Linked DNA regions of Homo sapiens. The protein of the gene in region 7 purifies or fractionates together with the protein of the main gene of each other region. This does not show direct contact. Each region holds a gene or a part of one and is shown on either strand. Other genes may lie near its edges. The genes, in order: TVP23C, ABCB10, GALNT2, GOLIM4, SLC27A2, PTPRK and BZW2.

Evidence for each region.
Region 1: the proteins of BZW2 (region 7) and TVP23C purify together in Homo sapiens (affinity purification with mass spectrometry, with the first as the bait; 2 studies listed by BioGRID). This does not show direct contact.
Region 2: the proteins of BZW2 (region 7) and ABCB10 purify together in Homo sapiens (co-immunoprecipitation; one large-scale study listed by IntAct). This does not show direct contact.
Region 3: the proteins of BZW2 (region 7) and GALNT2 purify together in Homo sapiens (co-immunoprecipitation; one large-scale study listed by IntAct). This does not show direct contact.
Region 4: the proteins of BZW2 (region 7) and GOLIM4 purify together in Homo sapiens (co-immunoprecipitation; one large-scale study listed by IntAct). This does not show direct contact.
Region 5: the proteins of BZW2 (region 7) and SLC27A2 purify together in Homo sapiens (affinity purification with mass spectrometry; 2 studies listed by BioGRID and IntAct, with this or other methods). This does not show direct contact.
Region 6: the proteins of BZW2 (region 7) and PTPRK purify together in Homo sapiens (co-immunoprecipitation; one large-scale study listed by IntAct). This does not show direct contact.

Annotation. Positions count from the first base shown.
Region 1 is NC_000017.11:15,536,282-15,540,180, forward strand, and holds the end of TVP23C (Golgi apparatus membrane protein TVP23 homolog C), read right to left. Parts: 3' UTR 699-3,899; downstream 1-698.
Region 2 is NC_000001.11:229,544,512-229,548,906, forward strand, and holds part of ABCB10 (ATP-binding cassette sub-family B member 10, mitochondrial), read right to left. Parts: intron 3,191-4,395; coding exon 2,988-3,190; intron 1-2,987.
Region 3 is NC_000001.11:230,248,547-230,252,941, forward strand, and holds part of GALNT2 (polypeptide N-acetylgalactosaminyltransferase 2 precursor), read left to right. Parts: intron 1-637; coding exon 638-725; intron 726-1,910; coding exon 1,911-2,014; intron 2,015-4,395. UniProt on the Homo sapiens protein: Catalyzes the initial reaction in O-linked oligosaccharide biosynthesis, the transfer of an N-acetyl-D-galactosamine residue to a serine or threonine residue on the protein receptor.
Region 4 is NC_000003.12:168,089,186-168,093,580, forward strand, and holds part of GOLIM4 (Golgi integral membrane protein 4), read right to left. Parts: intron 1-4,395. UniProt on the Homo sapiens protein: Plays a role in endosome to Golgi protein trafficking; mediates protein transport along the late endosome-bypass pathway from the early endosome to the Golgi.
Region 5 is NC_000015.10:50,188,325-50,192,719, reverse strand, and holds part of SLC27A2 (long-chain fatty acid transport protein 2), read right to left. Parts: intron 1-4,395. UniProt on the Homo sapiens protein: Mediates the import of long-chain fatty acids (LCFA) into the cell by facilitating their transport across cell membranes, playing an important role in hepatic fatty acid uptake.
Region 6 is NC_000006.12:127,974,603-127,978,997, reverse strand, and holds part of PTPRK (receptor-type tyrosine-protein phosphatase kappa isoform b precursor), read left to right. Parts: intron 1-1,943; coding exon 1,944-2,075; intron 2,076-2,215; coding exon 2,216-2,341; intron 2,342-4,395. UniProt on the Homo sapiens protein: Regulation of processes involving cell contact and adhesion such as growth control, tumor invasion, and metastasis. Negative regulator of EGFR signaling pathway. Forms complexes with beta-catenin and gamma-catenin/plakoglobin.
Region 7 is NC_000007.14:16,687,271-16,691,665, reverse strand, and holds part of BZW2 (eIF5-mimic protein 1), read right to left. Parts: intron 1,870-4,395; coding exon 1,760-1,869; intron 1-1,759. UniProt on the Homo sapiens protein: Translation initiation regulator which represses non-AUG initiated translation and repeat-associated non-AUG (RAN) initiated translation by acting as a competitive inhibitor of eukaryotic translation initiation factor 5 (EIF5) function.

The DNA.
Region 1 (3,899 bases), on a different chromosome or scaffold from region 7:
AAACGAAGCCTTTATCACATAGTCCAAGATGGCTGCTCTAGTTTCTGCTATTGTGTCTACCTTTCAGGAAAAAGGGGGAAGGGATGGGCGTGCCTCCTCCTTTTAAGGATACTTCCTGGAAGTGTATCCATTGGCCCAAACTTGGTGGTGTGGCCACACCAAGATACAGCAATAAAATCTAGGAAAAGTTTTATCTTTATTCCAGGATGCCATTCCCTAGCTAATTAGGTGGGAAATCTGTAGAAGGAGAAAAACGAATATTAGGGAATACAGGGTAGCTCCTACCACATGCATATTCTAAAATTCATTGTTACTTGGTTTAGGATGCAGTTCAAATAACACAGTTACCTAAAGAACTACACCAATGTATCCTTTGTTAGACTCTCAACCCTAAAGATTTAGGTTAGATCTTTCAGATTGTATTTTAAAATGTCTTTAGTGCAGTATCAATTCTCACCAGACAGAACAGCTAAGTAAAATAAACAAGCTCTTAACAAATTATTAATTTTTAAGAAAGGAAAGGGCATTTAGAGCAAATATTTTCTCTAAAAAATACTAATATATCATGTTTTATATCCTACAGATATTCCTGCAATCTGTTTTCCTTGGGAAAGTCACTCATTAACCTGAAGTTCAGTTATATCATCTAAAGTATTACATATTTATCATGAGGGTTACATGAGATTACACATGTCAAATGCCTTGTAAATAGTAGAATTTTATACAAATATAAAGTTTTGCACCTTCAAAGCTATCACTCCAATAAGACACTTATTCAATTAAACAAATAATCTTAAAAACTATTTTAACAATGTACAAATATATTCACAACATAATCTGCTGATTAAGACTTCAACAAAGTTTATAATACCTACAACAGAATTTACAGATGCCTACAATAGTTTGTAGATTGGTTTAATTTACAGTTACATAGATTGCTTTAAGAAATACCATTAATACAAATGCATAATTTACAATATCCCCATTATAGCAAGAAAAAAATAGATTCAGAAAATAAAATGTCTTTTAGGCATTTATTATGCCAAGTATGTAAATTATTATTCTCATTATGACATGAGAATAATGCTCTTTTAGTGGTAAAAGATCTATTAGCTCAAGGTCCACTGAAGAACTTTCAATCTAGCTATCCTTTCTGTAAAATAAATAGAATAGCAGCAATCTCTGGGTATTCCTTAAACTATGATGATTCCACTTATATTAACTGGGCCTTAAGTAGATAACTTCTTACAAACAAAAATAAAATTTTATAAAGTAGTTAATACCACTGGCCCTAATTGTTTTCACTTGCTTGCATACGTCTAAGAAATTTCCCCATGAAGTACATATTAAAAACTAACAATTATTTCTAACTTATACATAAGCCAAAGTGCTCACTCTTACCATAGAAGCAAAACTTTCTCCTGAAAACAATCTACAGAAATAATATGTAAACATATAGAGCTTTGAGACAGACTAAGAACATCCTCCTATGTTCTATGGATCAAAATGCAAAGGTCTCCATTATCTGTGTAAATGAACACTTTCATTAACTTGGGATATACAGGTATTACATGGCCGTGTGCATACCTATGGAATGTGCATACCTACACCACAGAACAAATCTTAACAATGTTTCTAGTGCCAACATATACTTTCTAGCCCCAACTGCTGGAAAGGAAATAAAAACTTAATATGAAAACTACTTTTCCTTTTTATAAATAAAGTTTTTAAGTGGAAAAACAAAGCCAACACTCCTCGTTGCAACATGGACTAAGCTCTAAAAGGTTGAGTCAAGAATCTCTTCAGTTGTTCCCCAATGTAACAAAGCACATAAGCTTTCTCTATTCAGGAAGTCTGATCATCTCCAGTGTTCCGCAAAAGACAAAAAAAGAACTCCTTAACATCAAAGTTATTTCACTTCACACACCATGGACTTGGGGCCTAGGCCTAGGAAAACATTCTATATTTCTAAGCAGAGCATTACCTTACATACAATGGCCCAATCACATTAAAAAGTAGACATGCTAGGCTGGGCGCCGTGGCTTACACCTGTAATCCCAGCACTTTGGGAGGCCGAGGAGGGTGGATCATGAGGTCAGGAGATCGAGACCCTCCTGGCTAACACAGTGAAACCCCGTCTCTACTAAAAATACAAAAAATTAGCCAGGCGTGGTGGCGGGCGCCTGCAATCCCAGCTACTCGGGAGGCTGAGGCAGAAGAATAGTATGAACCCGGGAGGTGGAGTTTGCAGTGAGCCGAGATCGCGCCACTGCACTCCAGCCTGGGCAAACAGAGTGAGACTCTGTCTCAAAAAAAATAAATAAATAAAAAAGTAGACATGCGCTAATGAAGTAAATCCATGGATACCATCATCCACCCAGCTGTCCAGTTTGTCTCATTTGAGCAGACGCCGGATACCATGTAAGACACTAACCCTATCCATGTTATGCCAGGTTTAAGGTTTAATTTCACCTGTATTCCATGTTCCTCCCCACCTTCAGAAACACTGAAAATTCTAACGAAAAAAACCTAATAAGCACATACATGAAAGTTACCCTAAGGTGGACCACAGTAAAGGTATATTGGAGCCATGCAAAAATCCTTCAGAATGAGATGATCATGTCCCTACATGAATATTCATTTTCTCTACTTTTCATCTTCTGTGAGAGAAACTGTACAGTAGAATAAAAAGAACAATAAATTTTGAGTACAGAGGGCTGGGTTTAAGATCTAGCTTTGTACCACTATTAGCTGTATAATCTTAAGTAAATAATTTAATTTCTCGGGGCTTTAGTTATCTAAAATGTAATCCCTGGACCAGTGCCCTCAGTACCACCCAGAAACTTGGGAGAAATGCAAATTATGAGACTCCACCCCCAGATCTACTGAATAAGGAGTCTGGAGGTGGAACCCAGCAATCTTGTGCCCTCTAGGTGATTCTCATGTATGTTCGAGTTTAAGAATCCCTGTCCTACATAATATCACTTGCCCAACCTACTGTACTAACCAAATGCAAGGTATTACTCATATAAAGACCTAGTCACGGCCAGGCGCCGTGGCTCACGCCTGTAATCCCAGCACTTTGGGAGGCGGAGGCAGGCGGATCACGAGGTCAGGAGATCGAGACCATCCTGGCTAACACGGTGAAACCCCGTCTCTACTAAAAATACAAAAAAGCCAGGCGTGGTGGCGGCGCCTGTAGTCCCAGCTACTCGGGAGGCTGATGCAGGAGAATGGCGTGAACCCGGGAGGCGGAGCTTGCAGTAAGCCGAGATCACGCCACTGCACTCCAGCCTGGGCGACAGAGCAAGACTCCATCTCAAGAAAAAAAAAAAAAAAGACCTAGTCACTTTTCCCAAGAGATTTAACCAATAATTATTTACCTATGACTACTACTCATCCTGCTGAAAACCCTGATGTTGAGGTATTATAGTAAAATCCTTATGTTCTAGGGGGAAAAAAACATCTGAGTACAAATGTTATGGTCTTCTTGTGATTCAACTGTTCTCCCTAAAACCATACAACATACAGGCTGGGCACGGTGGCTCACGCCTGTAATCCCAGCACTTTGGGAGGCTGAGGTGGGCAGATCACAAGGTCATGAGATGGAGACCATCCTGGCTAACATGATGAAATCCCATCTCTACTGAAAATACAAAAAATTAGCTGGGCGTGGTGGCATGCGCCTGTAATCCCAGCTACTCATAAGGCTGAGGCAGGAGAATCACATGAACCCGGGGGGCAGAGGTTGCAGTGAGCCGAGATTGCACCACTGCACTCCAGCCTGGGCGACAGAGCAAAACTCTGTCTCAAAAAATAAAAATAAAAACATACAACATACATTCTGCAAGGGCATTCACTTAAAGCTCCCATAATTGATGAAAAACAACTGAACTTAA
Region 2 (4,395 bases), on a different chromosome or scaffold from region 7:
ACACAATATCAGGTTCTCATAACTGGACTTCCCCTATGTCAGGTCCATGAGTTTGTGCAGGAGAAACAAAGTCACATTTCTGATCCCCTAGAGCCAAAGATCAGATCCTAGGTGAAGCCACTTCCTGAGGCCCTTTTACAGACTGAATGGAAATTCCCCCTGAAATTCACATGTTGAAGCCTTAATCCCCACCATGGCTGTATTTGGAGATGGGGCCTCTAAGAAAGTAACTAAGGTTAAATGAGGTCGTTAAGTGTGGGGCCATGATCCAATAGGATTAGTGTCCTTATAAGAGACACTAGAGCACACTCTCTCTCCACTATGTGAGCACATGGCAAGATGGCAGCTGCCTACCAGCCAAGAGAAAAGGCCTCAGAATGAAGCTATTTTGCTAGCACCTTGACCCTGGACTTCTAACCTCCAGAATTGTGAGAAATACATTTCTGTTGTTTCAGCCAAGCCACAAGAAAAGGCCTCAGAATGAAACTATTTTGCTAGCACCTTGACCCTGGACTTCTAACCTCCAGAATTGTGAGAAATACATTTCTGTTGTTTCAGCCACCCAGTCTGTGGTATTATTATGGCATCCCAAACAGACCCCTTTGAATTGCTCATCTGACCTACACTGAATTCCCTTTCCTTGTTACAAAAAGTACCCCAAGTGATTTTTCCCAGCTTGAACTCTTCCTGATCCCCAAAACTATTCATATTTGGAAAACGGCATGTTAGTGCAGGAAGGGTCCTCTTCCAGAGGTTTGCTTCTCTCTTAGCTGGAAAATCATGAGATTTCAAAGCTGTTTTTCATTCCGTAAGTCAGATCTAATAGGCAACACACCCTTCCTCTCTAAGTGCTTCATGGGACACAAAGGACAGAATCCAAGCTTTTCCACTTGTGAGAAAGGATTATTTACAGTTCTTATTCCACGAGTCTAGAACTGCACTGCCCAAAACGATAGCCCTACTGGAAACTTGAAATGTGGCAGGTATGACTGAGACATTGACTTTTTAATTGTATTTAGGTTTAATTAAAATTTAAAAGCCTATACTCCATTCAGTTATTGGCAAACTATTAAGTATGTCTGGAAAACTTGAGTATGTCAAACTACTTTTTCAATTGTACATTTTATAAAATCTAAATATAGATCAAGTACTTTCAATGAAAATTTAGCATCCGAATTAAGATGTTCCTTAAGTAGAGAATACACACCAGATTTGGAAATTCAGTTGACCTTTGAACAACATTGGTCTGAAATGCATGGGTCAACTTATACATAGATTTTCTTCCATCTCTGCCACCCCTGAGACAGCAAGAACAACCTTTCTTCCTCCTCTCAGTCTACTCAGTGTGAAGACAATGAGGATAAATACTTTTGTGATGAGCCGGGCGCAGTGGCTCACGCCAGCAATCCCAACACTTTGGGAGGCTGAGGCAGGCAGATCACGAGGTCAGGAGTTCAAGACCAGCCTGGCCAACATAGTGAAACCCCATCTCTACTAAAAATACAAAAAAATTAGCGAGGCGTGGTGGCTGGCACCTATAATCCCAGCTACTCGGGAGGCTGAGGCAGGAGAATCACTTGAACCCGGGAGGAGGAGGTTGCAGTGAGCCAAGATCGTGCCATTGCACTTCAGCCCGGATGACAGTGCGATACTCCGTCTCAAAAAAAAAAAAAAAAAGCTTTTATGATGATCCACTTCCACTTAATAAATAATAAATATATTTTACCTTCCTTATGATTTTCTTAATACCATTTCTTTTTTCTAGCTTACTCTGTTATAAGAACATAGTATATAATACATATACCAAATACATGGTAATTGACTGTTAATGTTATCAGTAAGGCTTCTGGTCAACAGTAGGCTATTAGTAGTTGAGTTTTTAGGGAGTCAAAAGTTATACTTTGATTTTTGACTGTGTGGGCTTCAGTGTCCCAACCCCTGCATTGTTCAAGGGTCAACTATAATATGAAAGAAATAATATAAAATACCTCATTAATAATTTTGATATTAATTACATCTTGAGATGACAATATTTTGTTTATACTGGCTTAAACAAAACATTATTAAAATTAATCTCAGCCAGGTACAGTGGCTCAAGCCTGTAATCCCAGCACTTCAGGAGGCCGAGGCAGGAGGATCACTTGAGGCCAAGAGTTTGAGACCAGCCTGGGCAACATAGAGAGACCCTGCCTCTACAAAAAATATATATATATATTCTTTAAATTAGCCAGACTTGGTGGTGTGTGCCTGTAGTCCCAGATACTTGGGAGACTGAGGTGGGAGAATCACTTGAGCCCAGGAGTTTAAGACTGCAGTGAGCTATGATCTTGCCACTGTACTCCAGCCTGGGTAACAGAGTGAGACTGTCTCTAAAAAAATTAAAATTAAAAAAAAAATTAATCTCATTGGCTTCTTTTTGCTTTTTTAAATGTGGCTACTAAAACATTAAAATCACATATGTGGCTTGCATTGCCTCTCCAATGACCTGCAGCACTGGGCTGAATAGAAATACTGGTTGAAGAGGTAAGGCAAGCAGACAGGACAGGCACAAGCCACCCAGTTAAGGAAAGGAAAAAAGGCCATGGGAGTGAAGAGCTCTCCCCTTAAAAGAGCACAGTTCGACTTACACACACAGAGGAATGGAATTTAGTCACCGCTTGGTGCCACCCACAGGGTAGTACCCAGTGCTCCTTCTACCTGATGCTCTTTTCTGCCTTAATACCCCGGGTACACACATCTCAGAATACCCAGCAGTAACACATGAGTCCATTTTCCAGATAATCACTCATTCTGGAGAAATGAAGGTACAAGAGGCCATGCAGGCAGAGGCAATCCCCACGTTCCAGCAGCTTCTGCAACAGCACTTTTGGCTCTAGGCACTTACAGAATGATGCGAACCGCTCAGCTTGAGCTCGTCTCACACGTGAGAGGCCTGGTGCAAGCCAAGCCCTGGCAGGAAGGTACCAAGGGGAACCAGGCCCACATACCATCATACTGATGCCTACGGAAGCCTGGGCCCCGGCCCTGAGCCCATCTGAGAGGTTTTCAGTCACTGAGCGCCCCAGGAGTGCAGTGTCTGATGAGAGGCGGTTAATCAATTCTCCTGTGCGAGTCTTGTCAAAGAAAGCAACCTCCTGCCTCAGAATGGAGGAGAATAATGAAGTTCTCAGCCTATTCACAATGCGCTGACCTGCAAAAGCAAACACGAACAGGCTCACCAAGGGTAAAGACATCCATTACCATTATGGGGCAGCCACTTACTGTGCAGCAGCTTGGCCTGGAGTTGTAACCCTCCTGAGCAATGCAGCCTCTGAGCGTGTCTGCTGCACTGTATCCCATGGGTGGAAAGAGACTTTCCCAAACCAGGCACATTAACTGTCATGCACTACTAACACTACTTTTCTCTTATTAACTACAGACTGTGGGCGCTAGTGAGAGGATACAGGAATAAAATAAATATAACATGACTCAGAGGCCTTTTTTATTTTTACTTTTTTTTTTTTTTTAAGAGACTGGGTCTTGCTCTATCACCCAGGCCTGAATGAAGTGGCACGATCACAGTTCACTGTAACCTCAACCTTGTGGGCTCAAGCCATCCTCCCACCTCAGCCTCCTGGGTAGCTGAAACTACAGATGTCCGCCACTACACCCAGCTAACTTATTTTTATTTTTTATATAGACGGAGTCTTGCTATGTAGCTCAGGCTGGTCTCAAACTCATGGGCTCAAGCAATCCTCCTGCCTCAGCCTCCCAAAGTGCTAGGATTACAGGCATGAGCCACCACACTTGGCCGAGATTTTTTTAAGGTATTATTTACAAAGAAGTTTTATTACATTAACTTCCAAAAGCTCATTTTGTTCCTCCCTGGAAACCCTTTCCTGTATTGAACCTTCAAATGGCAAGAATTGGTTAATTATCCACAGAGATAAATGGAGAGCAACAGACTTCGAGTTGGTGTCCCAGGTTCTCTCATTATTGTGGCAGTGACCTGCCTGTAAAAACAAGACCTCTTCAGAGAAATACTAACAAAGTTATCATCCCAGCTGCTACTTAAGGAGAAACACAAGCATGGGGCATGTAAATGGGTTTCTGAAGCCTTCAGGAAGCCTCAGAAGTCCAGCTTCATGGCCAGGGGCCTCATTTTCTTTTTTTTTCTTTTTTTTTTTTTTGAGATGGAGTCTCGCTCTGTCCCCCATGCTGGAGTGCAGTGGTATGATCTGGGCTCACTGCAACCTCTGCCTCCCAGGTTCAAGCGATTCTCCTGCCTCAGCCTCCTGAGTAGCTGAGATTACAGGCACACACCACCACGCCCGGGTAATTTTTGTATTTCTAGTAGAGACGGGGTTTCACCATGTTGGCCAGGCTGGTCTCGAACTCCTGACCTCATGATCCACC
Region 3 (4,395 bases), on a different chromosome or scaffold from region 7:
CTATCCTCAGGGGTCTGTGGATTCCAAAAATGAAATGCAACAGGTGCCAAATATATCTGAAATTGAAGCTTATTTGCCCAGCTTGGCAACTTCCGCTGGCTCATTTTCCCTTAAAGTTTTCATATTCCCAGCATGTTCCCACTCCATTCTTGCTGCAAATACAGTCTGAAGTTTGCTGGCCCAGGGAACTGACAAAGCCTCGTTCCCTCCCCAGCATTGCCTTCCCCTGGGGCAGTGTTGGAGGTACCACGGCTTGATTTTCATGTTGGATGCTCTTTTTCCTCACATCCTTACAGCCCTTGGACATGCCCTGGTTATCACCACACAGACCCCAGTTCTCTCCCCATATTTCATTTTTTCCTATGCATTTCAATATTAGAAAAGCCTGACTCACATTTTCTTTAGGGAGGGGCAGGGAGAAGATTTCAACATTCACCCTCACTGCCGGTCTCTCTCTTCAGCTACACCCACGCCCCCAGTCCCCTTCTCTCTCCTCCACACCTTCTTTTTTGGCTTTGTTTTGGTTTTCATTGAGTTCTGTCCAAACATCGAATATTTTTAAGCTGTGAGGAATGGGGGTGTCGGGAGGAAGTGGCCAGTCTCTTGTCAACACCCTGTTTCTTTTCCTGGCTGGCAGGTTTTGATTGGAACTTGGTATTCAAGTGGGATTACATGACGCCTGAGCAGAGAAGGTCCCGGCAGGGGAACCCAGTCGCCCCTATAAAGTAAGTGCCAGCATCCTTCAGGGTGCCCCTCCCAGATGAGACCCCAGGTTCCAGCTTCTTTGCTGGGCCCGCACCGCCTGGAGACCCAGTGGGGGCTGTTCACCTTCTGCCCTCCGGTTTCCCCTCGTCTCAGCTCAAAGATGAGCACCTTCCACCAGGTCATAGAATAAAATCCTTGGAGATTTCTTTTCCACAGTTGAAGTCTCACATAGGTTTATAAGGCCTATCTGCTAGGTCTGTGCATTCCTGTATGTTGATAATGTAGAGCGTTTCTGTAGCAGAGCAGGATCTCCGAGCTGACCCCAGGCCCAGGAAAAGGGGCTTGGTGGGCAGCAGGAGGCTTACTGCTGCTACTGCCCAGCAGGCCTTTGCTCTCCTGCAGAGGAAGGAGCCCATGCTCATGAAGCCCATGCTTTTAAGATTCCCAGGCCGGGCGGTGGGCTTTCTGGTTGAGAGTCAGGATGCCTTCTCTAGCTGGGGAGAGAAGGGGGCCACCTCTTCCAAGTTGGCACACGGTTAAGTGAGATAGCATTCACAGAGTACTTAGCGCTGAAATATATTTGCTGACATTTAGCCAACATCTGCAGTGTGCCATAGACCTTCCCAGCACTTTACACTGAATTCGCACAGCATCGCTTCTGGGAACAAAGTAGGGAGCTCAGTGTACATCTGTTGTCAACCCCTTCCTGGGATGATGAAGTGAGGAGCATGGTGGGTTCCCTTGTAGGAGGTGGAGTCTCATCTATGATAGTGATAATGAGAGCTGGTGCTGTGGAGCATTTCCTAAGCGTGCTCAGGGCTTTATGCCCATGATTTTTTGCAATCCTCGTAGCTACCCTATAAGGAAACTGACACACAGAAAGGCCGAGTTCTTTGCCTATGGCAGCATGTCAGTGAGTAGTGATCCAGCCCCAGCAGTCGCTCCCACATAGGGGAGGCTCAGTCCAGCCCCTGGCACTGTGGGAACATCCAGGCAGGGACAGTGGGGGAGGCATTTGAAGGCAGCAGTGGTGAAGCAGAGAGAGTGGCATGCTGGGCACTGAGCAGAAAACAGTGGCAGTGTGGCTGTTCTGAAGATCAGCTTATTGTTAGGGAATCAAGGCTTGGCCTTGGCGCAAGGGTGCTGGCAATCTAACCTTGACTTTGCCCTCTCCTCCCTCCCCCCTCTTCTTTCTGCCTCTTTAGAACCCCCATGATTGCTGGTGGGCTGTTTGTGATGGATAAGTTCTATTTTGAAGAACTGGGGAAGTACGACATGATGATGGATGTGTGGGGAGGAGAGAACCTAGGTATGTACAAGCCTCAAATCTCAGGACAGAGAAGTGCCTCAGCTCTGCAAAAGGCAGGGTGCCAATTGGAAAAAAAATTTAAAAGGCTTCAGAGTGACCATTCACTGGGCTTAATCGATCCTTGCAAACACATATGTAACACCCCTTTTGCTCTTGAAAGTCTCATGAGTTGGGCATTAAAATGTGCCTCCCTAGGTTAGAGTGGAGGATGCCAGAATACGGATAAAGTCTTTGAAGGGAAATGCAAACTCTTTCAAGGCGTCTGAACCCAAGTGTTTGGAATGTTGCAGGCTTGCAAAAACAGAGGGAAACAGTCCAGGAGCTCAGATTCATGCTGAGTGGTGGAGAGTGGAAAATGAACCCCGGCGAGGCTGGTGGGATTGATTGAATTGAAATCATGAAAATCCGATGGGGCAGGGAGGCCTTGGCACTTAATCCCTTCTCGACTACCTTTGCGAATGGTTCTCATTTGTTTTTCTGTTTGTTTGTTTTTTTGTTTTTAAATACCCCATGCAAATTATTTTTACCCAGGTTTAGGCACAGCAAAATTTTGCACATTGTGGTCTATATTGGTAGCCTTATATTTACTGCATAAAAGATGAAAAGATGTGTTTTGTTTGTTTAGGGTTTGGAGTGGGGGAGATCTTTTTTGCTTGTTTCAATTAAAGCCTTTTGTTTCAAATGCTTGACATTCTGAGCGAATTCTCCTGGGCTGCTGAGTGTTGTTAACTTACATTCGTCCTTGGGTGAGTGTACCCTGGAGGACAGGGGAGAAGGAAAGGGGAAAATGAGGCCACTCATTTTTAATAGTTTTGAGACTTTGAAAGTTTTTGTTACTTTAAAAGAAAAGACTAGCCTAGCCTATTATTTTTCCATTGTTTTATGATGTTGAAGTCAGTGATACCATCTCATCTTTGAGGATTTCTCTGCCTTGGTTTGATGTTGAAAGCTTCTTTAGGCTCGATTACTATACTGCACGGGTGGAGAGACCGTGAGTCAAACTCCTTTTGGGTTGTTTTAAAAAAATGATACATTAACCTCTAGGGAAAGCTTGGATTGAAGTCACTTGAGTACAAAAGGCTTCAGAATTGTTAACCCTCTAAAGAGAGTTCTGTCACCCTGTTCCATGGGTATCCCCTAATGGTTTAGTGGAAATCCAGCAGGCCAGGGTCGCCCAGTAGGGCAGCGTATCGTGTAGGTGGCCATTTCTCAAAAACAGTGTGGTTTTCAGAAGTTTGCATACTATTAGCTGAAATGAGACATCAGCCAGCATTTTGTGTCATCGTGTAGGAAGAGTGTTGATTTACATATCTAAGGAGGCATTCACCCAGAGACTGGGGGGTAGATTTGTTGTAAGGAGCTGCTTTATTGTGGTTTGGTGTTTGTATTTATTATGTAGCTGTGCTAGAAGGTTCTAGGGTCTGAGCGGTTCAGGTTGGGGTGAAGATGAACCCTGCAAGCAGGAGCACATCTCTGCCCAGGAAGGCTGGGGCATCTGTCCCTCCGTGAGGGGCTCTCCTGGGTTATGCCAAGGACTTGGACTCCCAGTGAGGTTTGGAGGGCTCAAGAGCTTCACGTGAGAAGGCCATGCCGTGAGCCTTTCTCCTTAGCACTGCTCTAGCTTCTGCTTCTGGGGGCCGTGCACACTACTAGCCATTGCCAACCTGAGGGGCCTCTGTGGGTGTGCATTGGGAGAGGTGTATGGTGCAGAGAGGCCCGAGTAAGATCCAAAACCACCTCCTCAACGTGTGCCCCGCTGGAATGACCAGAGCTTCCCATTTTCCTAATCATGTAAGTCCTTATGTCATTTAAGCAATTAAAATGGAGGACCAAGAACCTAACCCTTAACTCTAACAATGGGGGTAAGGCTCCTTGGGGGCATCATCTGTGTTTCTCTACATCCCTGTCATGCAAGGATGATGCTAAGTACTTCCAGGGAATCATCTGTTTGTGCTTTCTTAACGGAGTGTGGTCTGCAGAGGTCATGACACCTTGCCCAGGGTCTCAGAACCAAGATGTAAACACTAACTGCCTAATTAAAAAGCCATTGAGTTTTACTGAGTAATTATCCTCAAAGTTATAGGGTTCAAATGAAATCAACGCTGAAGATACTGTAGTTATACTTAGCCTTGAAAATCTCCCACAAAAGCCCTGGAAGGATCCCTTGTTGGCTTAACAGATTCCCCATAGAGAAGCCAAGGGGATTTCCTAGCCCCTAATTCTAAATCTTGTGGTGAGGCAAATGGATATTTAAATTTTATTTTCTGAAATAGAGACAACTTCTTTTTTTTTTTTTTTTTTTTTTGAGATGGAGTCTCGCTCTGTCACCAGGCTGGAGTCCAGTGGCACATTCTTGGCTCACCGCAACGTTCGCCTCCCGG
Region 4 (4,395 bases), on a different chromosome or scaffold from region 7:
TTTTGTTCCATATTCTAAATGGTACAGGATCAAGCAAAAATGATAGTCTCTTCATTTAACTCTAAGTTGTACTTCAGTGAAGATGTCCATTTAATAGACAATGTCTAGTTCATGTTTTAAGTTCTAACGCTGCACTTGAAAATTAGTACACCTACCACACATTGCCCACACTTGTGGTCTAAATTGCTGAGGTCTATGAACCACTCTGTTGTATATGTTTCCTCAATCATCCAAAATGCAAGCTACACCCTTCTAAGCACTGCACATCAGCTAACACTATTGATTCTCAAGATAACCTTTTGTAAGCACTATTATCCTGATTATTACATATGAATAGATTGAGTCACAGAAAGGTTAAATAACTTGCCCATGACCACACAGCTAGCAAAATAAGATAGCAGAAAATCAAATCCAAGTGCTCTGACGCCTCAGCCTGTATCTATTATACCTCACTGCGCACAATACCACCATATATATGCACATTAATAGGCCAAGAAAAAGTACTACATAGGTACTACCAGGCACCAGACGCTGGAGATGAAGGAATAAAAAAAGCCTGGTTCTGTGCTGAAGATGTTTCTCTCTTTTTTTTTTTTTTTTTGAGACAGAGTCTCGCTCTGTTGCCCAGGCTGGAGTGCAGGGGGGTGACTGGGCTCACTGCAACCTCTGTCTCCCAGGTTCAAGCAATTCTCATGCCTCAGCCTCCTGAGTAGCTGGGATTATAAGCATGTGCCACCACACCTGGCTAATTTTTGTATTTTTAGTAGAGATGAGGTTTAGCCATGTTGGCCAGGCTGGTCTCAAACTCCTGATCTCAAGTGATCCACCCGCCTCAGTCTCCCAAAGTGCTGGGATTACAGGCGAGAGACAGGGTGCCTGGCCAATGTTTCCTTTCTAAAAGTAGATTTAGGGAAGGTTGAAAGCAAAGAAGTAACCAATGACAAGATGTATTCATGCTTAGGCCAGTGGGCCATCCTGAGTGTTAGAGGAGCCCAATGCAAAAAACACTTAAATAACAAATGTCTGCACACCGAAAGAAACAACACAGTAAACAGCCTACAAAATAGGAAAAAATATCTGCAAAGTATGCACCTGATAAAGGGCTAATATCCAGAAGCTACAAGGAACTCAAGCAGCTTGACAAGAAAAAAAAAAATTAAAAACTGAGCAGAGGACATGAAAAGACATTTTTAACAGGAAGCTAGACAAGAAGACAACACACATAGGAAAAAATGCTCAACATCACTAAGCATGAGAGAAATGCAAGTTAAAATCACAGTGAGATACCATCTTACACTAGTCAGAACGGCTTTTATTAAAAAGTCAAAAAACAACAAATGTTGGCAAACATGCAAAGAAACGGGAATGCTTATACACTGTTGGTAGGAATGTAAACTAGCACAACCTTTCTGGAAAACAGTATCAGGATTTCTCAAAGAACTAAAAATAGAGCTACCATTCACTCCAGCAATCCCAATACTAGGTATATACCCAAAGGGAAATAAATAATTATACAAAAAAGATACCTGCACTTGTATGTTTATTGCAGCACTATTCACAACAGCAAAGATATGGAATCAACCTAAGCGTCCATCAACAGAGAACTGGTAAAGAAAATGTGGTATATATACACCATGGAATACTACTCAGCCGTAACAAGGAATGAAATCATGTCTTTTGCAGCAACATGGATGGACCTGGAGGCCATTATCCTAAGGGAAATAACTCAGAAAAAGAAAAGTCGAAGATAGCATGTTCTCATTTACAAGTGGGAGCTATACAACGGGCACACATGGACATAGAGAGTGGAAGTGGAGACTACAAAAGGTGGGAGGCTAGCAGGGGGTGAGAGTTGGAAATTTTCCTGTGGGGTAAACATGTCCATTCTTTGGGTGCACTGAAAGCCCAGACTTCACCACAACTCAATATATGCATGTGAGAAATCCACACTTGTAACTCTGCACTTCTACACGTCACATTTGTGACCTTTTTTTAAAATTTTAAATAGTTGTAACATATTCATCTGGAATAGGAACATATAAACCTTACATAAACTTTTTCTGGATGGTTTCTCCTTATCCCTGGAAGTCCAAAAGCATTGCAATACTGTGTTTTAGGAATGTCAGGCTCTTTGCCTCTACACTAAATGCCTTTTATAAAAATTTAAATAGTTATATCTCTCTCCCAGATCTCACAGCACATAATTATTACCTTAGCAGTCACACCCTCTCCTAATCTGATATGATCCAGAACAGAGTTAATCAGTAACCGCAGTCCAAGTTTAAATTGTCAAGGAAGGTCCTTTCTTCTGATTAAAGTACACTGGATGTTTGCATATTCCTTGATGTTCATTTAAGGTACAATAAAAGGAGGTGGTTAGCTACATAAACAAATTCTGCCAATTTCAAAATTTGAAATTACCCATGACAAACCTGGCAAGAGTAAAAGGGATAAAGCAGCTTACCTCAAAGAGGGATTCTGATAACAGCTAACTTTTAACGAGCAGTACCTACTATATGCCAAGTATGTGCTAAGAGCTCTACAGTCTATCATCTTCATTAATCCTCACAATACCTCTATAAAATAGGTTATTCTAATCTCCACTTTATAAATAAGAAAAACGTCAAGGTTCACACAAAAGGTTGTAGAACTAGAACTGAATTACAGTCTAGAAACCAGTCTGCTTTTAATCACATACTCAGATAAAAAATTCAAGTGTCTCTGGGGCCAAACAAGTAAAGTAAATGCACGGAAAGGCTCAGTTTTAAGATTTTTTATAGAGGTGTGGCTCTCAACCTTGGCTGCACACAGGAATCACCAGGGGAGCTTTAAAGACTTTTGAAGCCTGGGTTCCACCCCCCATAGACTGTTATTTAATTGGTCTGGGAGCCACCAGGTGATACTAATGGGCAGTCTAGACTGAGAAACACTGCCTATAGATACAGACAATGGAGCATGGCTCACTTGAAAGCAGTTTAAAAACTTTAAAGGTTATATAAACACTGTGCTGGCCAAAGATTGTTATTACCTTTGCCACCAGTATGTGACCTCTGTCCCACTCCTCAGTATAATTAAGGTGCCAGTATGGGAGATAAATAGATGACTGATTGCTAAGAGGGATAGATAAACAGGCAGACATAGATATTTTTATAGTGGAAGGGGTTTGCCTAGTCTCTGACCTTTCTGCATGCCATCCCCACCATCTTCTAGTTATGGGGCTCTTCTACAATAAAACTTGTTAACTTGGGGTTACAAGTAACCCACTTTCAAAGGAATCTATGGAGTATAATCTATTCTTAAACTGAAGGTGACCTAAATACGCTCACTTAACGAACGCACATCATCAGATTATAGGTCTAAACTACTGAAATTTTTTCAAGAGTCATTTTTAAAAAGACCACTCTTTTTAAAGTCATTAATTCTGATCTTAATCCAAGCCAGGTCAAGCAATCCCACCTAACTAAACAAGTATTAAGACTGGAGAGCCTGATGTCCTAAAAGCCCATCTATGCAGGTGGTACACAGTGCTGTTGAGTAAAATGTCATTTGTCTTGGAAAAGGGAAGCAAAAGTTGCATACCACCAGAAAATGTACATTAAATGGCTTACACATGGGAAATCCAAAATAAATGCTACTGAAGTCAAAAGTGAATCCACAAAAAACAAAAACAAACAAAAAAATACTTTAGCCTGCTTGTGAAATAATTATTCATGCACAATTATACTGCAAGTTTTGTAGCACCATAATTAGAGAGGAAATGACAAAAGAATAAATTAAGAAAGGGACTTTGAAGCCACTTATTCAAATTAGGTAGAACATTTCCATCTGCTGCAAAACAAAAGTTGTATATTTTAATGATCCTGTATTACCATTTACCACCTCTCTTCCCCACTACCACCACCACCACTAAAAAAAGAAAAGGCAAATTAGAAAAGAAATTTCTAAAATTTCAAAATGAAATACTGCAAATAAAGGCCATTATTCAGAAATTAGGGCCTCAGTCAACAATATCCATCGTCCATCATAGGCCGTTGAGGCAAAGGAGCTACTTGAACAAAATATTTTCTTGTTTTATTTGGCTTTCAAAAAGCAAAGACACAGAAGCAAAGTCTCAGAAAGACAAAAGTGCCTGGGATGAACTTACTCGCCACAGTTCAGAATAATTTTTGTTTGTTGTTTGAATAAACATGCATTGATTCCCCTAATGAGTGTCAGGCACAGTGTGGTGCTGAGGAGGTAATGGTGAAAATGACAGCCTTTGCCCTCATGGGACTCCTAAGAGACCAAGGCACACACAACCTCATATAATCCACCATACATGCCCCTTCCAGCCATGTTTATGAAAATCTAGTCCTGTTATACTATTAGACGGTAAATTTTTCCCTTGGTCTGACT
Region 5 (4,395 bases), on a different chromosome or scaffold from region 7:
AAGAAATATTAGCCGGATGTGGTGGCGCACACCTGTAGTCCCAGCTACTCTGGAGGCTGAGGTGGGAGGATCACCTGAGCCTGGGAGGTCAAGGCTGCAGTGAGCCATGATTATGCCACTGCACTCCAGCCTGGGCAACAGAGTGGGACCCTGTCTCAAAAAAAAAATTTAAAAAAAAAGAAAAATGTACTCAGGTATTAGCATGAAAAATTAATAATAAAAGGAAATGTAATTAAGCTGGTGTCATGCTTGATCACAGTCCAAGCAACTTCACCTCATGTGTACTTCATTCATGTTCCCAGCTGGCCCTCTGCAGGCATGTAGTTTGTGATTCCTGACCTTTTATGCAAGTCATCTAATCTGAAGGGAGGGCCATTGCCCCTGCCCTACACCATCTCCTTCCATCTCCTCTAGGCTGTTGGTGTAGATTTGTTATTTGGGCAGACTTGAGTTTCCAGCGGCTTGCCAACCATATCTGGACACACTATGGAAGCCTTTCTTCCCTTAAAGATGTAGAAAGAAAAAAGAAATTTGAAAGGAAATTCTGGATGTGAATCTACCTGTCAACTATCTAGTTGATATTTAATGTCTTTTATTTTCTTGAGTCTTTTGTAGATATGTTTGGGCCTACATATTTTCTTTTTTCTTTTTTTTTTTTTTGAGATGGAGTCTCACTCTGTCATCCAGGCTGGAGTGCAATGGCGTGATCTCAACTCACTGCAATCTCTGCCTCCTGGGTTCAAGCGGCTCTCCTGCCTCAGCCTCCCGAGTAGCTGGGATTACAGGCGGCTGTCACCATGCCCGGCTAATGTTTGTATTTTTAGTAGAGATGGGGTTTCACCAATTTGGCCAGGCTGGTCTTGAACTCCCAACCTCAAGTGATCCGCCCACCTTGGCCTCCCAAAGTGTTGGGATTACAGGCATGAGCCACTGCCTGGTTGGCCTACATATTTTCTAATGCAAGCATAAAATATCTATCTACCTTTTATAATTTTTATTGTAAAGTCTGCTCATCTATCAATCAGAACATGTAAGCTCCTATAATTCTATTTGTCAAGGTTGGGTTCTCTGAGACTCCGAGATGTGCATGCAGGAGTGCTCTTGGGAATGGGACCTGTGAGGCTGCAAGGGAAGCAGACTGGATAGAGGGAGACATTGAACTGTAATGCAGTCACAACAGAAGTCTCCCTCAGCAGATCCTCTAATCCTAAGGGGACTCTGGACCTGGGATGCCCTTCAGAGTTACCTCCTAAATTAAGGGAGGTAGGCTGTGCCTTCACACCTGCCCATTGACCAGTCCAATGGACTCAGGCTGGGGTGGTGGTGCTTAACCTTGGGCAAAGTGTCTCTCTTCAACCAAGGAGAAGTCCTGGGAGAGGTCTCAGCTGAGAGCTCCCAGCAGCTGAAGAGTGAGTCCGTCAGTCCTAAAGCAGGGATCTGGGTGGCACATCAGAGCATGCACCCACCTCTCTCTTTACTAATAACAAACATTTAAAATTTTCATTTGCATAGAACTGTTGGTATAGTTTTACATACATCACTTCACATAATTTTCATAACAACTCTGTGATATAGATACCAGTAATCTTATTTCTACAAATGAGAAGAGGCTCACCAAGTCAGTGTATGGAGGGTCACATGCAAAATGAAAAGAATCATTCTGGGCTTCTGAGGTTCCCACCTCCTTGTATGAGCCATTCAGATTAAGTTCTAGCAAAGTGCCTTATTTCTTGGAAGAGGCTGGCTGCTTGGCCTTCTGCTCAGTGCTTGTTCAATCATGTGGATCTGCATTTAATGAGTAACATGGATGATCTTTTCTTGAAGAGCAAAACCTCAAGCTTTATTAAAAGTTTGAGTATGAGAAACAGTGGTCACAGAAAGTTGCCTGAAGGGTGTAGAGCAGCTCCATCAGTCGGTTCTTCATCAGTCTAGTTTTAAGTTGTAGACTGAAATAAACCCACAGAGAAAGAGCACACACTTGGGTGTTGAAAAATCAAGTGATTACAACACTACTCCCCCATCCCCTTTAAAGTCTGTTCAAAGAAAATTTTAAAAAATTAAGGTAGCATATTAAGTCTGCCCCTGCCTTTTTTTTTTTTTTTAAGGAAAAAGGAAGAATTTTCTGAATAAACAAGTCCATTGCTAGAAGGCAGAGAGATTGGGTAGGTGGTGAGCTGAATCAATCTTCATTACTAAGGTGTCAGGTGCTCAGGCTAAACCTGCAGCTTTCCAATAGGAAAACATTCAGTCTAGTAGCTTGTTCTGCTACTAGACTGCCTCAGTGAATGAGTAACTGACTGGATTAAACAAAACACCCCAGAAATATTTACCAAGAAGGTAAGGTCCAAAAGGAAGGTAGTGAAAGGAAATGTACTCTGATCATGAAATGGTTGGTTGATGAGCAAGTCAAGCTTGAAGATTTATCTCTTTTCTTCATTCAGAAAAGCAACTGAAATGCAAACTGGTGCTATTAATAACATAGTCCTTGAAGACAACCTAAAAATAGTTCCTAAAATGCCATTTGTAACTGTAATTTTGCATCTCAATCATTGGCAGTTTGGAATGACAGTATTTTGTACAGCAAGATGATGCACATTATAATACTATATATAGAGAGAGAGACATGCATGTGCTCCTCCTTCTTCCCCACACAAATCACCCGGAGGTCATAAAAATGTTTAAGTTCCACCAGGAGTAAGCAAAAATTTAACAAGGAAATACATACTCATTTTACATTTAGGTAATTAAGTAGTAATCTCCTTGATGTTAATTTTTATTTCTCCAAGTTAAAGTTCTTGCTTATATGAACTCTTGCTTTCTAAATAGCCCTGGAATCAAAGGTAATTCCTTATCATGAGTTACCAGGTCACATAAGGCCTTACATAATTGTTAGCATTTGATATCTGTAAGCAACCATGTCATCTTTCTACCAATGATCTACTTCCCTTTTCTCAGAGGCTGTGGGAAGGTCCTTTTCAAATACTAGCACCTATTATATAGAATAATCTGAACTCTATCCTTCTCTTTCAGATTCAATAACAACACCTGATTCAGAGTTTGTTTTTACCTCTTCAGTCCCTGTTTCTGAAGAAAATAAAGTGCATTCCCATATATGCCAGCAAAGTGCTAGTTTTGTTCTTGGATGGAGATGTACAATCACCTCCTTTGCAAGCTTTAGTTAAGAGCAGGGAGAGAAGAAAAATCTTAGAGAATATCTTTAAGCTATCTTTCCTTGGGCTACTAGGCTGGGAATCCCAGCCCTTGGATATATTAATCATTTGGTGTCTGGGTTTCTGTCCTTGTACAGGGTCCTCCACCACCCTACTCACAGGTCCTTTCCAGCCCATCCTGTGCTCACCACCTGCTTACTTGCTGCACTGAGACCCAAGGAGAGCACCGCTGTCCTACCATGTACTGCCAGAGAGCTGGACAGAGTCATTGATTAGGAGGACCTTTGAGAGGTAAGTAAGCCTGTGGTAGGGTAAGGCTGGGCCTGGGGTAGATTGAGTTTAAATGGATTTTTTCACATCTGATTTTGTTACATCATTTTTCAGGCCCTCATGCCCAACCCAGTGGTCCTTAAGCTTCAGGAGAGAAAGCCTGTCACAATCAACCAGAATAATGGAACCCATTAATTCAACAGACATTATCTATCCATTATGTATGTATGTATGTATGTATGTTTGTATGCATCTATCTATCTATCTATCTATCTATCTATCTATCTATCTATCTATTTATCTATCTATCTATCTACCTATCTAGACAGTCTCACTCTGTCATCCCGGCTGGAATGCAGTAGTGTGATCTTGGCTCACTGCAACCTCCACCTCCCAGGTTCAAGTGATTCTTGTGCCTCAGCCTCCGGAGTAGCTGGGATTACGGATGCCCGCCACCATGCCCGACTAATTTTTGTATTTTTAATAGAGACAGGGTTTCGCCATGTTGGCCAGGCTGGTCTCCAACTCCTGAACTCAGGTGATCTGCCCATCTTGGCCTCCCAAAGTGTTGGGATTACAGGCATGAGCCACCGTGCCCTGCCCAACAGACACTTATTGACTGCCTGCCTACTATGTGCTAGACATTACTAGGGAATTATTCAAAGATATATGAGAGAATTCTAAGCCTTTGAGACAAAGTGCATTGAAACAACTCATTTAAGTTACTCCTTGGGCAGTCCAAAGAGTTGGGAAGAGTGTAGATTAGATTATTTCTGTGCCTTGATTCTGGACTAAAGTTGGCATTAGAAAATTAAATATTTCCTTCTGTGGAAGTGAGGCCACTGCTGTTGGCCATTCTTTGGACTCTCTGAGTCCCTATTTTTTCCATTTCCTGTCCCTTCAGGAAACAGCTTAAAAAAATGACTATTATTAGGTCCAGACTGCCATTGTTCTT
Region 6 (4,395 bases), on a different chromosome or scaffold from region 7:
AAAAAGACATTTCATAGTTAAAGCTGTTCTGGGGATTTAGTAGTGCAAATGAACCGTTGGAGAAGTAAAGCTGGTTTGATTTACAAGAACAGGGTTTATTGTTCACTTCTTTCTCCCTACCCTTTATCCCCATCATTAGTACCCTTTTGCCAGGTCTATGAGGGATTAGGAGCTAGGGCCAAGAATTCTGTAATTTCAAAGCCTTACATATGTTCCTGCATTTAGAGGGAAAAAGAATAGGAAGTCTTCAGTCTTCTCCTCTCTTATCAGCTCCTCCTCATGCATATCCCCTCCCCTGTGGCTCAAAAAATGAGTAGATAGCCGTCAGTCTGCTTTGACTTACCTTTGCATGGAGCAGACATTTGATTGGAAGAAGAGCTTCCTTTCTTCTAACTTTTCTCATTGTATTAGTTCATTCTCACACTGCTAATAAAAACATACCTGAGACTGGGTAATTTATAAAGGAAAGAGTTTTAATTGACTCACAGTTCCACAGGGCTGGGGAGGCCTCAGGATCCCTGCAATTATGGCCGAAGGGGAAGCAAACCCGTCCTTCTTCTCATGGTGGCAGGAAGGGGAAGGAGTGCCAAGCAAAGGGGGAAGCCCCTTATAAAACCACCAGATGTCATGAGAACTCACTCACTATCTGGAGAACAGCATGGGGGAAACTGCCTGCATGATTCAATTATCTCCACCTGGTCCTGCCCTTGACATGTGGGGATTATTACAATTCTAGGTGAGATTTGGGTGGGGACACAGAGCCAAACAATATGACTCATGAACCTTCCTGCCTTTCTTAGGAGACACTCATCCCAGCTGCACGTGTAACTTGGTAAGGTTTTGAGGTCATTTAGAAGTAGCCAGGTAAATTATTATTGTCATCTACTCAGATTTATCCTGCAGTCTTCAGCCAACGCTGAATGCCATGGTTGGTAGCATTTCCCAAATGGTGGTAGCATCAGTGAAGTCCAAGAACCAGTTCCTGTGCTGATGTTAAGATTCTTGAAGGACTTAAATAGTAGTATGATACAAATGAGTTACAAGATCATTGAAAATTTTTGTCAGCATTAGGGAACTCTATAATCTACTAATTATTATTATTATTATTGCAAATAATTAGTTTAAATCAAATGGCAATTGTCCAGTCCAGATAAATATTGTTTTTACTACTTCTCCCTTTGGAAAGAGATAATATATTGTGTTCTAATCAAGGAGGACTTGGTTAACAAGGAGCTATCTCCCCGCTTATGTGGGGACAGGAAATATATTGCTGTTATGCTTTGGTGCTTCAGGATCTTAAATGGTTGAGACTGTCATTATGACCTTTGATATATGTTAGAAATGCCCAGGAAGCTGTGGAAGGTGGATTGTCTGCAAGATGTGCAGAATATCCTGGTAGTGTCCACATAATGTAAAAGCACAAGTGTTTGAGCTACTTGTGGTTTTTCTTATTTGGAGTGGAGAAGAGTAAAACAATTTTACTTGCACGCACACACACTATACACATACCCAGATGATTGATAGACATACCAGGGGTTTTGTGCTTACTTTGCCTTCAGCCTCTCAGAGACTGATTACGTTTGGAAAATTGAAATAGCCCAACAGGAACCTTACAGAGGATGTTAACCTCAGAAGCTTTTTAGTTTCTTCTTTTGTATTTGTCCTGTATTTACGTCTTTCAGTAAAGTAAAAACTCAGTTATTGACTTGAATTGCTTTGGAAGCATTGAAGTCTTCCACCAAATTGATTCATTACTGTACTAATTCAGTTCATTCCAGTGGTCTGAATCTCCTATTCCATGGTTTAATCATCACTCTGGCTCCTTCTGCATATGAAGCTATTGCATCTTACTGGTCCTACATTGAAGTGTATTGTATCTGTTTGTACAACCGATCATACATTTTAAGTTTTTATATTTCTCCATCTACCTTGTTTCTTCACAGAGCTACAGGCAACCAGCTGCTTTCATCGTCACACAATACCCTCTGCCAAACACTGTAAAAGACTTCTGGAGATTAGTGTATGATTATGGCTGTACCTCCATTGTGATGTTAAACGAAGTCGACTTGTCCCAGGTTAATGGCTATGGATTGCTTTTATGTACTTATATACAACTTAATAGAGTAGTAATGAATTGCTAAAATCTGCTTTATACTCTCCTAACTAGAAAAAATAATACTCTTTTTTTTTTTCTTTCAAAACGTTCATCATTTAGGGCTGCCCTCAGTACTGGCCAGAGGAAGGGATGCTACGATATGGCCCCATCCAAGTGGAATGTATGTCTTGTTCAATGGACTGTGATGTGATCAACCGGATTTTTAGGATATGCAATCTAACAAGAGTAAGTCACTATCGGATCCTTTGAGCTGATCTAGAATAGGTCAGTCATAACCAAGATGTGGTATAATTTTATTCAGACAACAGGGAGACTACAATTAATAAGCACTATATCATCCACCTCAAAGCTAGTAACCATCTTATGCCTTAGTACTCGAATAAAAATACAGGAAAACAGAAATGCTGGAAGCTAGGTTTTTCGGTCAGTCACTAGACTAGCATATTCTCTCAGGAAATACAGATGCACTGGCTCAGTCAAGTTGGACAGCCTAGGCCTGGCCTCTGAGTGTATGTAGACTTATCTTAAGGATGACTGCATGTTTTATTAGTATTGACATCCAGCCCAGAAATGGCATGTGATAAAAAAAATAAGAACATTGCAATAACAATAATGACAGAGAAACTGTACTGCAGGAGGAAAGAGACATGTTGGATCAACCATTATAGAAGGGTTCCATGTCACTGTTCCAAGTTCATTATTGATTATCCTACCTGCAATTTCATCTTCCTAAACGTCTCAACCTATGGCTCTAAGCAGATCTAAAGGTAGAACCAGTGCTGCTACCACCATGCCTTTTCCCAGCAGCAAAGTAGTAACTGTATCGTCTTTCTCTGACTCCTCATTTGCTTTCCACTACATGACAAATTCAATGTGGGTGGGGAAGATCTTAAAAAAAAAAGTGCTAATAAAGCCCGGGCACAGTGCCTCATGCCTGTAATTCCAGCACTTTGGGAGGCCAAGGCGGGCAGATCATAAGGTCAGGAGTTCAAGACCAGCCTGGCAACGTGGTGAAACCCCATCTCTACTAAAAATACAAAAATTAGCTGGACATGGTGGTGGCATGCCTGTAGTCCCAGCTAGTGGGGAGGCTGAGGCAGCAGAATCATTTGAACCCGGGAGGCAGAAGTTGTAGTGAGCTGAGATCACGCCACTGCACCCCAGGCTGTATAGAGCGAGACTTCGTCCCCCAAAAAAAGATATTAATAAAAACAATTTAGATTATGTAACCAAATAACAAGCAGAATTGGAAAAGAAAACATTAGTAACTTTCATGAAATTAAGCTCTTTTTAGAGAGAAACATTACTCTGTTTTTTAAAGCACCAGCTCTGTGGGTATGTATTTTAAGTGTGTGATTAGGATTATCATGTTTCAGTGTCTCTCATATCAAAATGACTACGTGTGTGTCTGGTTAATAAGTCTATATGTATATAACTATGAGCAGGGAATGGAATCATATCGACTCCTATTGCTCATTTCAGTGGAGAAAAAAAGGATAACTTCAATCATCTCATAATATTCATGCATATCTTAGATGTTAATTTAAATGGAATCTCATTATGTCTGCACATCTGTTACATTATGGTTCTAGTAATATTTGAGTTGGAAAAAAACAGAACTGCTGAAGACAGTAAGGCTTGTCTGTTAATTGAGCAGTTTATGTGAAAAATATTCTAGGAACAGGAACTGAAATGTTATATTTTTGTCAGCATATTTATTTATTTGTTTGCTTACTTATTGAACTGCCTCTGTATTTGGTATTCTGGTCCTTATTAGTACATGATTTTTTTTCTGTTCTCACTCTCATCATTTAATATATTTAATATATTTAACTGCATCAAACATTTAACATGTACCAACAAGTTTGTAGAGTACTAAGTAGGGCTTGTAATCTACCAAAAGATGCATGGGCTCTTGCCAATCTGATATGATTTACTCATATATTACATATTCTTCCTGATATTTTTATTTCAAGGTTTAAGGTTTTGATTCATTCTTTCAACACTACTACTTTTGGGGAAGTATTATGCAAAGTTCTACTGATACAGAGTGTAGGAAAAAAAGATTTCCGTGTACTTAAGGAATCTTTATTTTTTTCAGGAAGAAAAGCATTACATGAAAATTGTATAATCCTTTTTGTATAAAAGTGATGCATTTTACAGTGAAAGAGTAAAGAATATAGAGTGTTTAACTGGGTGATCTGACATAACTGTGTGATCAGAGATGACCTCTTTGCGATAGTAGTATTTAAGCCAAAATTTAATGAATCAATAGAAAT
Region 7 (4,395 bases):
TCTATCTGCAGAGGTGGAGAAGCAGCCTATTAGTGGATTGGATTTTCCCAATCTATTGCCAGGCATGGCAGCGTCCATAGGTGAGTTTTTAAGGTACTTGAGACGTTCAGTTCAGTCTCTGTGTTCTGGTACTTTGCCATGAAGACAGAATGGCCCAGATGGGAGCTGCTCCCTCAGCCTGTGCCCGAATGAAAAGGCATGTGGAACTAAGCCAGGCTTAGCCAAGATAGAGCTAATCTATAGACAACCCACAGCCTCATGGACAAGAAATATGTTCCCTTCATATGAACCTCCACCTTCCTCAGCAACCTATTCACTTATCTTCTGTGACTTTTGCTTCTGTTTACAGGGATTTGCCCTAAGTCCACTAGAAAGTAGGTTTCACGAGGGCAGGCAACTTTTCTATCCTGTTCTCTACTGGCTCTGCAGCTTGTGGTACCATGCCCAGCACAGGGTAGACATTCAGGAAACATGAGGAATGAAAATTATTATGAACTAGAATCTAGACTTCTGTACCTTTTTTACCATAATCTAAAAACTTTAAACACACAAATCTATTTAAGGTAAACTTCAAGAAACAAAGTATTCTTAAGTGATTTAAATTGCAAGTATTTACATTTAAAATTACTTTCATGTGTTCTTGAGGAAAAGAGATAGTCTTAGAATTATCTCATGGGACTGGACCCTTGCACACTGAAACACATTGGAAGAGAACAACAGAGAACAGGCCAGGTGAAGAGATGGCAGCGCTGTGTCTTATTTTTACACTTCATCCTAGAACTGTAAAAGCAATTCCACCTGGAGAAATCTTGGCATTTCACAGCTGCTGCATCAAGAAGAAAGAAATTGTAGGGAGCAGATAGAAATTACAAGAACAAAATATTTTTCTGGATTTTCTTAGAAAAACACAAAGATGGAGAAATAAAAATATAATCAAGCAATTGTGACACAATTAACTTGTTTAATTTCTGCAACAGCTTAAGTATTTCCAGGGAAATCTTGTTTAAACTTTTATTTTGTTAGCAAACTATTTAACACACATTTGAGATTAGCACAGTCTGACTGCTACTCAAGACAGACATCACAAGTATTTGATTAAGTGAGATTGATGAAATTTTTATCATATTAAAACCTTAAAATGTCTAGAAAGTTATGATTATAGGCTGAGTGTGGTGGCTCACGCCTATAATCCCAGCACTTTGGGAGGCTGAGGTGGGCGGATTACTTGAGGTCAGGAGTTCAAGACTAACCTGGCCAACATGGTGAAACCCCGTCTCTATTAAAAAAAATCCAAAAATTAGCTGGGTGTGGTGGAGAGCACCTGTAATCCCACCTACTCGGGAGGCTGAGGCAGGAGAATTGTTTGAACTCCGGAGGCAGAGGTTGCAGTGAGCGAGATTGTGCCATTGCACTCCAGCCTGGGTGACAGAGCCAGACTCTGTCTCAAAAAAAAAAAAAGTAAAAAAGTTATGGCTATAAAACAAAGTCTTAATTCTGATGAAATGTTAATACTATGTCAACAAACTTACAAATTTGGAAGTCTATATTCTTCACAATTCTTTAATTTTATTGTGCCATTTGTTCACAAAATAAAGATTAAAATGAAATTAGCTTCTACTACCAATTACACAGAAATAAAAGGAACAGTGCTCCAAGTCAACACAGATCCAGGGATCTTACTCATATACTACATTGCAGGCATTGCTTAAGCTCCAAGAAAGGCATCATACATACAACTCTTTAACCAGAAAACACTTACAAGCAGCCTCTTGTCTAAGTTGGCTTTTCTCAAAGACGAGGTAACAGAGTTGGCATCTTTTTCTGCCATCCATGCTTTGAAAAGCTTGACAGCAAATGAGGCCGCAATGCCTGTTGAAAAACAAAAGAGAATTTCATTCCTTTTACGAGCAAAACCAATTGTGATGGTGTGCAAAGCAACCAGGTTTCCTGAAATGTGTAAATAACTAAAAGACTAATTTTGGTACAAATGAAAAGTCAATAGACCTCTAGGCAAATTCTCCTCTTCTCATTACTCAAACTAGAACATTTTCAGGAAAAGGAAAATAAATTAAAATATTTTTCAAATTTGGACTCCTTGAATCCAACCTGGTCTAACTGCAAGTTTATTTTATTTTACCTTGGTCAAAAACATATTTCACACCCAGTATCTTTGGTGTTATTGCCTTTATTTCACCCTCTGGTTCATATGTATTTCATCTTTATAACAGTGATCTTGAGGCACAAGAAAGTAAATTAGGAGACACAAAACTGTAATGTCACCTTTATCAAGTAATTTGCTAATAAAGGATGCCAGTACAAGAACACTGATAGTGATAGATACAATAAGTATTGCTACGAATAGATGAACACATATCATTTACCTTAGTTTTGCTTTTTATAAAAAGCATTTTATTTATTTATTTTTATTTTTATTTTTGGGGGGATGGAGTCTCACTCTGTCGCCCAGGCTGGAGTGAAGTAGCACGATCTCGGCTCACTGCAATCTTCACCTCCTGGGTTCAAGTGATTCTCCTGCCTCAGCCTCCCAAGTAGCTGGGATTACAGGCATGCACCACCACACCCAGCTAATTTTTGTATTTTTAGTAGAGACAGGGTTTCGCCATGTTGGGCAGGCTAGTCCTGAACGCTTGACCTCAGGTGATCCACCTGCCTTGGCCTCCCAAATTGCTGGGATTGCAGGCATGAGCCATTGCACGCAGCCATAAAAAGCATTTTAAAATATTCTTGAGTTAAGCTATAAAAATACCAAGGCTGTTTCAAGTTAAACTCTTCTGGATTTAAAAAAAAATCATTATTAAGCTAGTTATGTTAAATCAGGAAACCATTTAATCACATGTCCACATTTACATTACCACTTATTTCCAAATAGAAATAATCAGATAACAAGAAGACAGTTCTATGAACACTTCAAATTTCTAAATTTATGTTGCGGTTATTTAATGAAGAGTTAAGATGTAACTGAAACATTTAACTGATTTTTCTAAACTGAAGGTTCTACTATTGTTATGAGCTAATGATAATGTGGCCTAAGCAGCCTCTATTCTCTTTACCTCCTTCCTAAAAGAGGTCCCCTTTTATCCAGTCCAGGTGACTACTGATTAGTCTAAGTCCTGGTACCACCCCTTTCTGATGATTAATTTAGTGACCTCGCTTAAGCTCATCTGCCCAAGGCACGCCCCTGGCAATTGCTACTGGACCTGCACTAGTCATGCAGCCTGTGTCAGCCAATCAGCTGAAGGAAAGATAAATTATCCTCTGTTCAGGAGAAGTGTTCTTCCACTGAACCTGAACCAGGAAGAATATGCCATAACTGTGTCAGCAGGCATCTTATAACAACTAGAGGGGGCACCATCCTTGGGATGAAGTTAATGCTATGAATGATAACAGGAGAAAAATACTTAAGTCCTGAATGATACTGCTGTTCAGCCTGAGGTCTGTCCTAATTTTCTATTTATTGTTACATAAGAAATCCATGTCCTTATATACCAATTTGACCCAGGTCTTCCAGCAACTGGAAAGTAAAAGCATTTAATTGGTCTATCATTCATATAGACACCAACTAAACCTGATTTTCTTCCCTTGAATAAGCAAAGAAACTAAGTTAAAAAAAAAACAAAAACGGCTATAACAACAAAACATGCATTACACCTTAACTGAAAGTTCATGTTAAACAACTTAAGATGAATTTTTAGCATTATCATTAGCTCATAAAACCAATATAAAATTTAATATAAATTAACACTAGGCTGTAATCTGTATCGTAAAGAAAAACTACGCTTGAAACTAGGAGCCTAAAACTGAGATTTAACTTTCTTTATAGTTACTCCTCTGAGTAGGATAATCCCATCTCCCTTGGTCATTTATTGGATGAGCTGGGGAAAATGATTAATTTCTTAACCATTTTCTTTATTTCTTTTTTTTTATTTTAGATAGTCTTTCTCTGTTGCCCAGGCTGTAGTAAGATGATGTGATTATAGCTCACTGTAGCCCCAAACTCCTGGGCTCAAGCAATCCTCTTGCCTTAGTCTCCTGAGCAGCTGGGATTGTACAGGTGTGCCAACACACCTGGCTAGTTTTTAAATTTTTTTTTGTAGAGAAGAGAGTCTTGCTTTGTTTCCCAGACTGGTCTCAAACTCCTGGCCTCAAGCAATTTTTTTACCTCAGCTTCCCAAAGTGTTAGGATTACAGGCATGAGTTACCATACCCAGCATTTTCTTAATCCTTTTCCAATTAGGAAGCAAGGGTTTAAACCTCTAGTTTGTAAAAGATGGCAGAGTTTAAGGAAAAGCCATATAACAGAGGTACTATGTTACTTCCATAGCAAAGTTATTTTTCTCCTCACCACCCCCCAAACATTTTACTACAATAATTTCC